3 separate regions of the Homo sapiens genome follow, and regions 1 and 2 are each reported to be linked to region 3. The links are microRNA targets in miRTarBase. Many come from high-throughput screens and were not tested one by one. Region 3 holds a microRNA gene; each other region holds the end of a gene's coding sequence.

Region 1 (3,253 bases), not on the chromosome of region 3:
GCTGTCCCGTCCCCTGAAGCCATTGCTGCCCCTCACTCCCCTCCTCCTCCCCCCAGGTCCGAGTACAAGGCCCACTTCTCCCTCCGCAACCTGCATGCCTTCTCTGTGGAGCCGCTGCTCATCTACCCCACACACTACACAGGAGACGATGGCTATGTGAGTGACACCGAGACCTCAGTCGTATGGAACAATGAGCACGTCAAGACCGACTGGGACCGCGCCAAGTCCCAGAAGATGCGGGAGCAGCAGGCACTGAGCCGTGAGGCCAAGAACTCGGACGTGCTCCAGTCCCCACTGGACAGTGCTGCCCGGGATGAACTCTGAGGGGTAGCAGCCAGAAAGCCAAAGCAGCCATCGGTGGCCCAGGCTCCACGTGCTTACTGAGGACATCAGGTCCACCTCTGGACCCCTTGGCAGGCCACAGAGGGCTCTCGTGTGGGGTGGTGTCCAGCCAGCTCTTGCTAAGCAATCACGTGCACACAGGCAGCATTAATGGAGTGCCTACTGCATGCCAGCAACAGGGCTTGGCCCTGGGGAATTGGGAGGAACCAAGCCCTCTTCATCTGTTCATGTGCCCAGCATTTATTAAGCACCTGCTGTATGCAAGGTTCCCATGTTACGGCAGTGAATGAGGCATAATTGTTCCCTCCATCAGCGATTGATTCAGTCATCAAGCAGTTACTGATCAGATTAAGAATCAGGCACTAGTGATACACATTCATTTTTAAAATTCATTCAAGGATTTATTGAGTGCCTACTGTGTGTTGGGTGCCATTCCAGGCTCTGGGATTTTTTTTTTTTTTTTTTTAAGAGTAGAGTCTGTCTCTGTCACCCAGGCTGGAGTGCAGTGGTGTGACGGCTCACTGCAGCCTGCGCCTCCCAGCGTCCAGCAATTCTTGTTTCTCGGCCTCCCAAGTAGCTGGGACTATAGGTGCGTGCCATCACATCTGGCTAGTTTTTGTATTTTTAGTAGAGACGGGGTTTCACCATGTTGGCCAGGCTGGTCTCGAACTCCTGACCTCAAGTGATCTGCCCGCCTTGGCCACCCAAAGTGCTAGGGTTACAGGCATGAGCCACTGTGCCCAGCCCAGGCTCTGGGAATATTGAGATAAATAAGATGCTTCTATCCATTTATTCAAGCACATATTGGTCACCTACTGTGTGCCTGGCACTCATGTCACAAAGATAAGTTCCTGATTCGGTACACTTACTGAGCACCTGCTGTGTGCAGGGAGCTGAGCTATGGGATGGGAATGGGAGTAAACAAGGTACTTTTTACTTTTTTCTTTTTTTCCTCACTGCTAGACGGTGTGGGAACTTCTCACTCATTGGCTTCTTTCCCACACACCTGAAGAGCACTGACTGTGTGCCGGGCACTAGTGATACAAAAGAGTGTGACAGTTGTTCAGTCTGCATTTTCGATCATGGGCTACATGCCGAGTGCTGGGGCACAGAGATGAACAAGATCGGTTCCTTCACTTCTTCATGCCACAAGTGTTTATTGAGCACCTGTGTGCCAGGCCTCACAGACTCCCAGTTGGGTTGAAGAATGGTTGACTGAGTTTGATTCTTCCTGTACCCTCGGTCGTCTGAGCTGTGTGCAGACAACATCCCCCCACCACCCAAGAGGGAGGGTAGCTCTTCCGCCACCAGGGGCAAGCACAGGTCCTGGTGGCCCCACGCCACATGTTAGCCCCCCTGGAGGGGGCGCCAGTTGGAGACGGGGGCTGGGTGTCCCTGGCCCACTCCCGGTCCCCTGTGCTTTACCTCCTTGCCCTTGTGTCTCAGGTGTGGTCCCTGCCTGCTTGATGAAGTTGCTCTGTTCAAGCCTTTGGTGGGATCATGTGTTTGGGGGCTTTTAGGGGACCCAGCTGCACTGGGGCACTGCCCGTGGCCTGGGTAGGACATTTCCCAGCAAGGGCTGGAGGAGTTGCCGTGCCTTCAGCCTGAATCGAATGTCAGAACCAGCCAGCGGTGCTTCACCCTCTTGGGGATAACTTGCTTAGTTTTTTAATAAATGTTCCTGGTTGGTTTTCACAGCAGTTTGTGGGATTTTGCTCGGCACCAAAACACTGCCCACGTTCCCCACCCCTGGATGGCCGACAAGATTTGGGAGGAAACCAGGGCAGGTGCAGTAGGGAAGCTGCCCAGTGGGGCCTGGCATGGTGGCTCATGCCTGTAATCCCGGTGCTTTGGGAGGCTAAGGTGGGCGGATCACTTGAGGTCAGGAATTCAAGACCAGCCTGGCCAACATGGTGAAACCCCCTCTCTATTAAAAGTACAAAAATTAGCCTAGTGTAGTGGGGCGGGGTGGCGGGGGGGGGGTACCTGTAATCCTCGCTACTTGGGAGGCTGAGGCAGGAGAATCGCTTGAACCTGGGAGGTGGAGGTTGCAGTGACCCAAGATTGAGCCACTGCCCTCCAGCCTGGGCGGCAGAGCAAGACACAATCAAACCAAAAAAAAAAAAAAAAAGCTGGCCAGTGGAGCTACTGTGGGGTGAGGGTGTGGTAAGAGCCCTGTGTCCCCTCATGCCATAAAACTTCCCCCAAACAGGCGGGGGACCGACAGCTCTGTCTTGAGTCAACTTCAGGATCCTTCCACATGACTTCGAATAAAGAGGGGCTGTCGTGCTTTGAGTCCCCCTAAAACAGACCTCAACATGAGGATTAGGGCTGGGCATGGTGGTTCACGCCTGTAATCCCAGCACTTTGGGAGGCCAAGGTGGGTGGATCACCTGAGGTCAGGAGTTCGAGACCAGCCTGATCAATAAGATGAAATCCCGTCTCTACTAAAAATGCAAAAAGCAGCCAGGCATGGTGGTGTGTGACAGTAGTCCCAGCTACTTGGGAGGCTGAGGCAGGAGAATCGCTTGAACGCAGGAGGTGGAGGTTGCAGTGAGCTGAAATCTTGCCACTGCACTCCAGCCTGGGCAACAGAATGAGACTCCATCTCAAAAAAAAAAAAGGATTAGGCTGGGTGAGGTGGCTCACTCCTATAATCCCAATGCTTTGGGAGGTTGAGGAGGTGAGAGGATTGCTTGAGGTCAGGAGCTCAAGACCAGCTTGGGCAACAGAGTGAGACCCTCGTCTCTACAAAAAAAATTGAGAAATTAGTTGGGCATGGTAGGGCACACCTGTAATCTGGCTACTCAGGAGGCTGAAGCAGGAGTATCTCTTGAGTCTAGGAGGTTGAGGCTGCAGTGAACCATGATCACACCACTGCACTCCAGCCTGGGCAACAGAGCAAGACCCT
Region 2 (3,253 bases), not on the chromosome of region 3:
CAGCCCACATCTGAGAATTCTAAAGAACCTTCATCTCTCAGCAAGTTCTCGCTGCCCCCTTGCTTCCACCGTGAGTTCTAAGAATCCATTCGCAAACCCAGTTGACTTCCCCCTTCTGGCTGTTTCCACCTTGCCTCGAAGCGATGTAGAGACATGTGGGGCTGCCTGAATAGCCTAAGGGGTGTCACGCCACAAGGCAATGAAATATGAAATTGTATTTTCTACCACCAAATAGTACCCATCCAAAGAGCACCCTGCCACCCACATTTACATTCCTGGGCAAAGGACACAGAGAGCTGGGAGGAAAGCAGGGGCCCCTCCAGCGGGGGCAGCCCTCCCTGTGCGCCGCTGCCAGGCTGTAGAAGCCCCGGCGTCCTGCTCCTGACACCCCTCCTACCCCTGGGCAGGTGTCCAGCGCAGCCCCGCAGAGCTCCAGGGTGGCCAAGTGGATCTCACCGGGGCCACCTGCCCCTACACCCTGTCCAACATGACCTACAAGGAGGAAGACTTCGAGCGCCTGCTGCGGCTCAGTGACTACAACGTGCAGACCAGCCAGGGTGCCATCCTGCAGGCCCTGAGGACCGCGCTGAAGCACCGGACTCTAGAGGCGAGGCCTCCAAGGGCACAGACCTGAGGTTGCTCAGAGGCTGCAGGACCCTCCAGGGCCTGCGGGCATAACCTGATCTGTAGCTGGGCTCAGCCACAGGCCTTCCTGGTTGGAGTTCTGGGCTCTCCCAGGCCTGGGTGGCCTCTGTAGCTGGTCTCACTGCCCAGAGGGAACTGCACACACAGACTTCTCTCTTACGTTCATGGCTGGCTTGAGATGAGTTGAAAATAACTTCGCCAGGCCAGTGTGTAGAACAGCTGGTCCAACCAGACAGACTTTCACACCACAATTACTTCCATGCCTGAGCAGGATAGATTTGAAGTGCAAGCCGGAGGCAGCAGATCAGGAGTAGGGACAGGAAGGACAGGGGATGCCTGACCTGACAGGTGGCTTCAGGCCTCGGGAATCACAAGACATCCTGAACACATTGCCTCCTCATCTTCTTCCTGCTCCTCCACCTCCTCCTCTCCTTGTCCTTCTCCTCTTTGTCCTCCTGCTTTCCGTATCCAAGTCTTGTACTTGTTTAAATTTATTCCTAAATATTTTATTCTTTTTGATAAGTGGAGTTACTTTCTTAATTTCATTTAGATTATTCATTGCTATTTTATAGAAATACAATGGATTTTTAAATGTTGATCTTGTATTCCGCAATCTTGCTGAAGTTGTTTACCGGCTCTAATACTTTTGCGGATTTCTTAGAATTTTCTGTAGACAGATCATGCCATCTCCAAATAGAGATGGTTTTACTTCTTCCTGTCTGATCTGAATGCCTTTTATTTATTTTTCCCAATTGCCCTGAGCAGTACAATGATGAACACACGTTTCAAGAGCAGACATCTTGTCTTGTTCCTGACTCTGACAAGAAAGCATAAGTCTCTCACCATTTAGTGTGATTTTAGCTGTGGGTTTTTCTTGGACATCCTTATCAGGTTGAGAAAGTTCTCTTTTATTTCTAGTTTATTGAGTGTTTTATGATGAAACGGTGTTAGGTTTTGTCAAGTGATTTTTCTGTGTCTATGGGCATGATCATGTGGTTTTGTCGTGTATTTTATTAATGTACTCTATTGCATTAATTGGTTTTTGGATATTAAACCAACTTTGCATTCCTGGGGCAGTTTCCATTTGATTATGGTATATAAACCTTTTTGTTTATTGCTGGCACATTTCTTTTTCTTTTTCTTTCTTTTTTTTTTTTTTTGAGACAGAATCTCATCACACTCTGTCACCCAGGCCAAGTTCAATGGTGCAATCTGGCTCACTGCATCCTCAACTTCCTGGGCTCAAGTGATCCTTCCACTTCAGCCTCCCAAGTAGCTGGGACTACAGGCATGTAACACCATACTTGGCTAAATTAAAAAAATGGTTTTTTGTAGAGATGAGGTCTCACCATGTTGCCCAGGCTGGTCTTGAACTCCTGAACTCAAGCAATCCTCCTGCCTCAGCCTCCCAAAGTGCTGGGATTACTGGTGTGAGCCACCACGGCCAGCTGCTAGCACATTTCTTACCTCCCTCATGCAAGGGTGCGTGTACACATACACACACACACACACCTGGCCCCAGGTGGGGGTTGTAGTGAGAGCTTCGGGACAGACCTTGGCTCAGGGACTGCCCTCATCTGATGTCCTCTCTCAGCTTCCTTCCCTGTGCCTCTTCTGCATTTGGCTTTATTTTGATTCTTCACTTTTTCCCTTTATCATGGACTCTTATTTTTTTAACAGTGATATGGGAATTGACTAGCTGTTGTGTTTTATTTTATGCTGGGCATTTTACATTATTCCCCTTAATTCTCACATTTGCCTAATGTGTTAGGTAGAATTACCGTCTCCTTGTTATCAGTGATGAAACTCAGGGTTGGGAAAGGAACAGAACAAAGCATCCTGTGACTCGTCTGCAGGTCCCTGGTGTCCGCCTGATGCACACAAACTTCACAGAGCACCTGTGTCAGGCAGGGTCACCGCGCCCCCGTGACGCAGCAGGACAGAATCAAGGCCACTCCATAAATATGCCTGAGCATGGACAAAAAATGAGGGCACTGTGAAACCATAAAAATGGCCAAACAGTGCCCTCTCCTGTTTCACGTGAGAGACTGCGGTTTCTCTACCAGGCTTTTCGTCCCTCCCGTTCTTCCACCTCCTGGATAAAAATTGTGAAGATCCTCAATTATAGACTCGCCCCACTCCCTGACAGCACCCAATCCACAGCAACACTTTGCTTCCTTGAACATTTCGTAATGTCACCCTACAAACGCCCAAATCCTTCAATAAGCACCCCCCCACCACACACACACACACACACACACACACACACACTTACTGAGACTGCACTGCCTCCTAGTATACAGTCTTCTTAGTGCAATGGGTACCAGTTAACTCAAATTTGTTTGGCTACTGGGCTGTTCCTGCTGGCCTCTGGCTGGTAGGCGTCCACAGGGATTAAGTAACTTGCTAACCTCAAAGGTGGCAAATCCAGGACTGGAGCTTCTGACAGCCACACCTCTCTGTGTCTTTGGGCACTGACTTTGTAACGTGCCCTATTCGTAGTTTAGAATTAACCTCACCAAAGAGAGGTCCAGTCTCTGCCCGTGGCTAGTGGGAGGTGACCTCTGGGTCCTGGAATGTCCTGTCTGACAGGAGTGTCTTTGTTTGC
Region 3 (3,253 bases):
CAGGCTGGTCTTGAACTCCTGACCTTGTGATCCACCCACCTTGGCCTCCCAAGGTGCTGGGATTACAGGCATGAGCCACCATGCCTGGCTCACTAGGTGTTTTTAAAAGGAAAAAAAATCTCACTTACTTTGAGAAGACTCTTGTGCTTTCACATGTATAAATATAAGCACTAAAATCACATGAACATACATTCATTTGAAGTTTTCAAGGAAATAATCATGAAATGTTTCAGATTATTATTTAAGTAAAAAATTTTTCTAGGAATGCATGGACCCCTGAGAATTTAGCCACAGACTCTCAGGGATTTGTGGACCTCAATTGGAAAACATTGCTGTAGAACAGTAGTTCATTTTGAACTCATTTTTGCAAGCTAAATTTTGACATGTTTTAGATGCTAATTCTAGGAATGTTCTCCCTTTTCTAAGAAAAGTCCAAGCATTTTTTACCTGCTCTAAAAGAATATCAACGGCTTTTATGTTTCAGAGACTGGATGCAAGAGATTGTTTAACAAATCCCATCCCATCCCTGAGAATGTGTCTAGGCATTTGCTCTTTGCAAAGCCAGATGCAACATTCATAATAACTAAGGCTATCTTCTGGCCAGCACTGCAAGTGTATCTTTTGTCTACATTCTTAAGTAACCACATCAAATAGCATCAACCCACTTGGAAATAATTTTGAAGTGATTTGGATCTCTCTTGTATATTTTCCCTATAAATCCCTAGCCTGGTAGGCGTGTATATTTTCTGCTGCAATATTTAATGCTTAGTTCCTTGCCTACATCTAAGAAATATTAATTTTAGAAGGAATTGGATACTGATATTGGCAAATTTTTATGAGACTGGCTAAAGGAGAAAGAAGAAGGGGACCTGTGATAGAATCTTCCATGACAAGGAGGAAATACTGGCCTCAGTCTCCTGCAGAAGCAGGAGCTCTGGTACACAGGTGGGGTGCCCACTGGTACAGCTCCCATCTGACATGAAGCAGGCAAGCCAAAGGGGAGCAAGAGCAATGCAACCTGTAAGACCCATCCTCAGACATTCTGCTATTGCCCCCAGACAATGGAAGGGGGGCGACAGCTGTCCATGGGGGCACTGCTAAGAGGGTGTTGATCAGCAGATCAGGACTGTAACTCACCATAGTGGTGGACTGCCCTGATCTGGAGACCACTGCCTTTCGAGAATAATTCACCCTACAGAAGCTATCTGAGCATCACCAGACAGGGTCTTCCTGGGAATTAGCACATATCCCAAATTTCCTTCAGCTTTGCCTGCCCACAGTCCCCTGAAAGCCCTCCCTTTTTCTGGGTGTGAGAGGAATGGCTGGGCATCCCTTGGCTTATCCTCCTTCTTGCCCACCATAGCCAGCATCTCAGAGTGAACATGCACGAGGGAGGTAGAAAGACTCCATATCCTTGTTCTTTACAACTTAGAAAAGCCTAAGTTATAGGAGAGAGATAGCACAATGGAATGCTGAATTAGAGGTAAATAATTGGTCTGTTTTTTTTTCACCAGTCTAGTTACTACTATTATGTAAAATATCTAATTTTACATACCCTAAACACCCATACCCAAACACCTTGACAAAGGAATCATTTTACCTCCCAAACATAGTCAGTGTTGATTTCACAAAATATCCCTAGAATTACTCTTTCTGAGGCTAACAGGACTACTTAGATGGTTCCTAAAGTCCCTTCTAACTCCTGCATTCTCTGGTTAATGAATCAGCATTAGTCATGTGGAAGGAAGGTATCCTCCTCAAACTCTTTTTAAGAATGATCTCAAGGAATCCAGAGTGCTCATTAAGTTGGTGAAAGAGTCAGTGCAGAATGCAGCTCATACATATATCCTGATGTGATGTTGGCACCTCTCAAGAAGCTGGGAAAGATGTCCAGGCTGGTCATAGGACTCAGCCCCTATTATGGGTCCAGCAGCCAGTAATAGTAAGCAATGTCTACTTCAAAAGATATCTCTGGCCAGGTGCAGTGGCTCAATCCCAGCACTTTGGGAAGCTGAAGCGGGAGCATCACTTGAGCCCAGGAGTACAAGACCAGCCTGGGCAACATGGCGAGACCCCATGTCTACCAAAAAAGAATTTTTTTTTTTTTTTAGACAGATTCTCACTCTGTTGCCCAGGTTGGAGTGCAATGGCATGATCTTGGCTCACTGCAACTTCTGCCTCCTGGGTTTAAGCGATTCTCCTGCCTCAGCCTCCCGAGTAGCTGGGATTACAGTCACACATCACCATGCCCAGCTAATTTTTGTATTTTTAGTAGAGGTGGGATTTCACCATGTTGGCCAGGATGGTGTCTAACTTCTGACCTCAGGTGATCTGCCAGTCTCAGCCTCCCAAAGTGCTGGGATTACAGGCGTGAGCCACTGTGCCTGGCCAAAACAATTGTTTTAATTAGCTGGCCGTGGTTGTGCATGCCTGTAGTCCCAGCTACTCAAGAGGCTGAGGAAGGAGGATTGCCTGATCCTAGGAGGTTGAGGCTGCAGTGAGCTGTGTTTGCACCACTGCACTCCAGCCTGGATGACAGAGCAAGACCCTATTTCAAAAAAAAAAAGATATTTCTGAGGAGCCATGCTCATTCAAGACTCACTGCTCTTAGAAGAGGTGTTAATCTGGCCAGGTGCCGTGGCTCACACCTGTAATCTGAGCACTTTGGGAGGGTGAGGTGGGAGGATCATCTGAGACCTGGAGTTCAAGGTCAGCCTAAGCAACAGACTGAGACCCTGTCTCTTAAAAAAAATAAGAGAGAGATGTTAATCTATATTAAACAATTGAATAGTGTGAAGATTTTGTAAAACTTTTTAAATCACCGATTATACAAAAGCTCTTATTGAATTATTAAGGAGTTAGCAATTACTATTAATGCTGTTGAATATGAGTAAGAACCCACTTAACTTCAATCAGAATCCATCGATCAAGCTTAAAGCCTTATCTCATAGTTCCCTTCCTGGTCTGTCAGCATTGCCTCATAGAGAGGGAAATACATCCCGCATCTGCCTCATCATGAACTTGGGTGGCCACCAGGATATTGCTCATGAAAGCTGCTTTTCTTTCTTTTTTTTTGTTTTGAGACGGAGTTTCACTCTTGTTGCCCAGGTTGGAGTGCAACGGTGCGATCTCGGCTCACTGCAACCTCCGCTTCCCAGGTTCAAGCGATTCTCCTGCCTCAGCCTCCTGAGTAGCCGGGATTACAGGCGCCCGCCACCACACCCAGGTAATTTTTTGCATTTTTAGTAGAGAC

The links. The annotated mature microRNA hsa-miR-1288-5p reads GCAGAUCAGGACUGUAACUCACC and lies in region 3 at 1,116-1,138, shown strand. An mRNA with a match to its seed (bases 2 to 7 or 8) in the 3' UTR can be bound and repressed. Matches are read on the target gene's strand: a 7mer-m8 pairs with bases 2 to 8, a 7mer-A1 pairs with bases 2 to 7 and ends in A, and an 8mer does both.
Region 1: the mRNA of COLGALT1 is a reported target of hsa-miR-1288-5p. Seed matches in the 3' UTR shown: 7mer-m8 at 1,026-1,032.
Region 2: the mRNA of PLA2G4D is a reported target of hsa-miR-1288-5p. Seed matches in the 3' UTR shown: 7mer-m8 at 681-687 and 8mer at 1,366-1,373.

The regions. Positions count from the first base shown.
Region 1 is chr19:17,581,121-17,584,373 of GRCh38, forward strand. COLGALT1 (collagen beta(1-O)galactosyltransferase 1) reads left to right here. Exons shown (of 12, transcript NM_024656.4): 12 at 57-2,037. The coding sequence ends at 324. Among named protein-coding and RNA genes, the nearest start is that of COLGALT1, 27 kb to the left of the region's middle.
Region 2 is chr15:42,066,096-42,069,348 of GRCh38, reverse strand. PLA2G4D (phospholipase A2 group IVD) reads left to right here. Exons shown (of 20, transcript NM_178034.4): 20 at 408-2,340. The coding sequence ends at 634. Among named protein-coding and RNA genes, the nearest start is that of PLA2G4D, 27 kb to the left of the region's middle.
Region 3 is chr17:16,280,913-16,284,165 of GRCh38, forward strand. It overlaps MIR1288 (microRNA 1288), which reads left to right and starts at 1,102; the gene lies at 1,102-1,176. The region is part of intron 2 of PIGL (phosphatidylinositol glycan anchor biosynthesis class L); the gene reads left to right.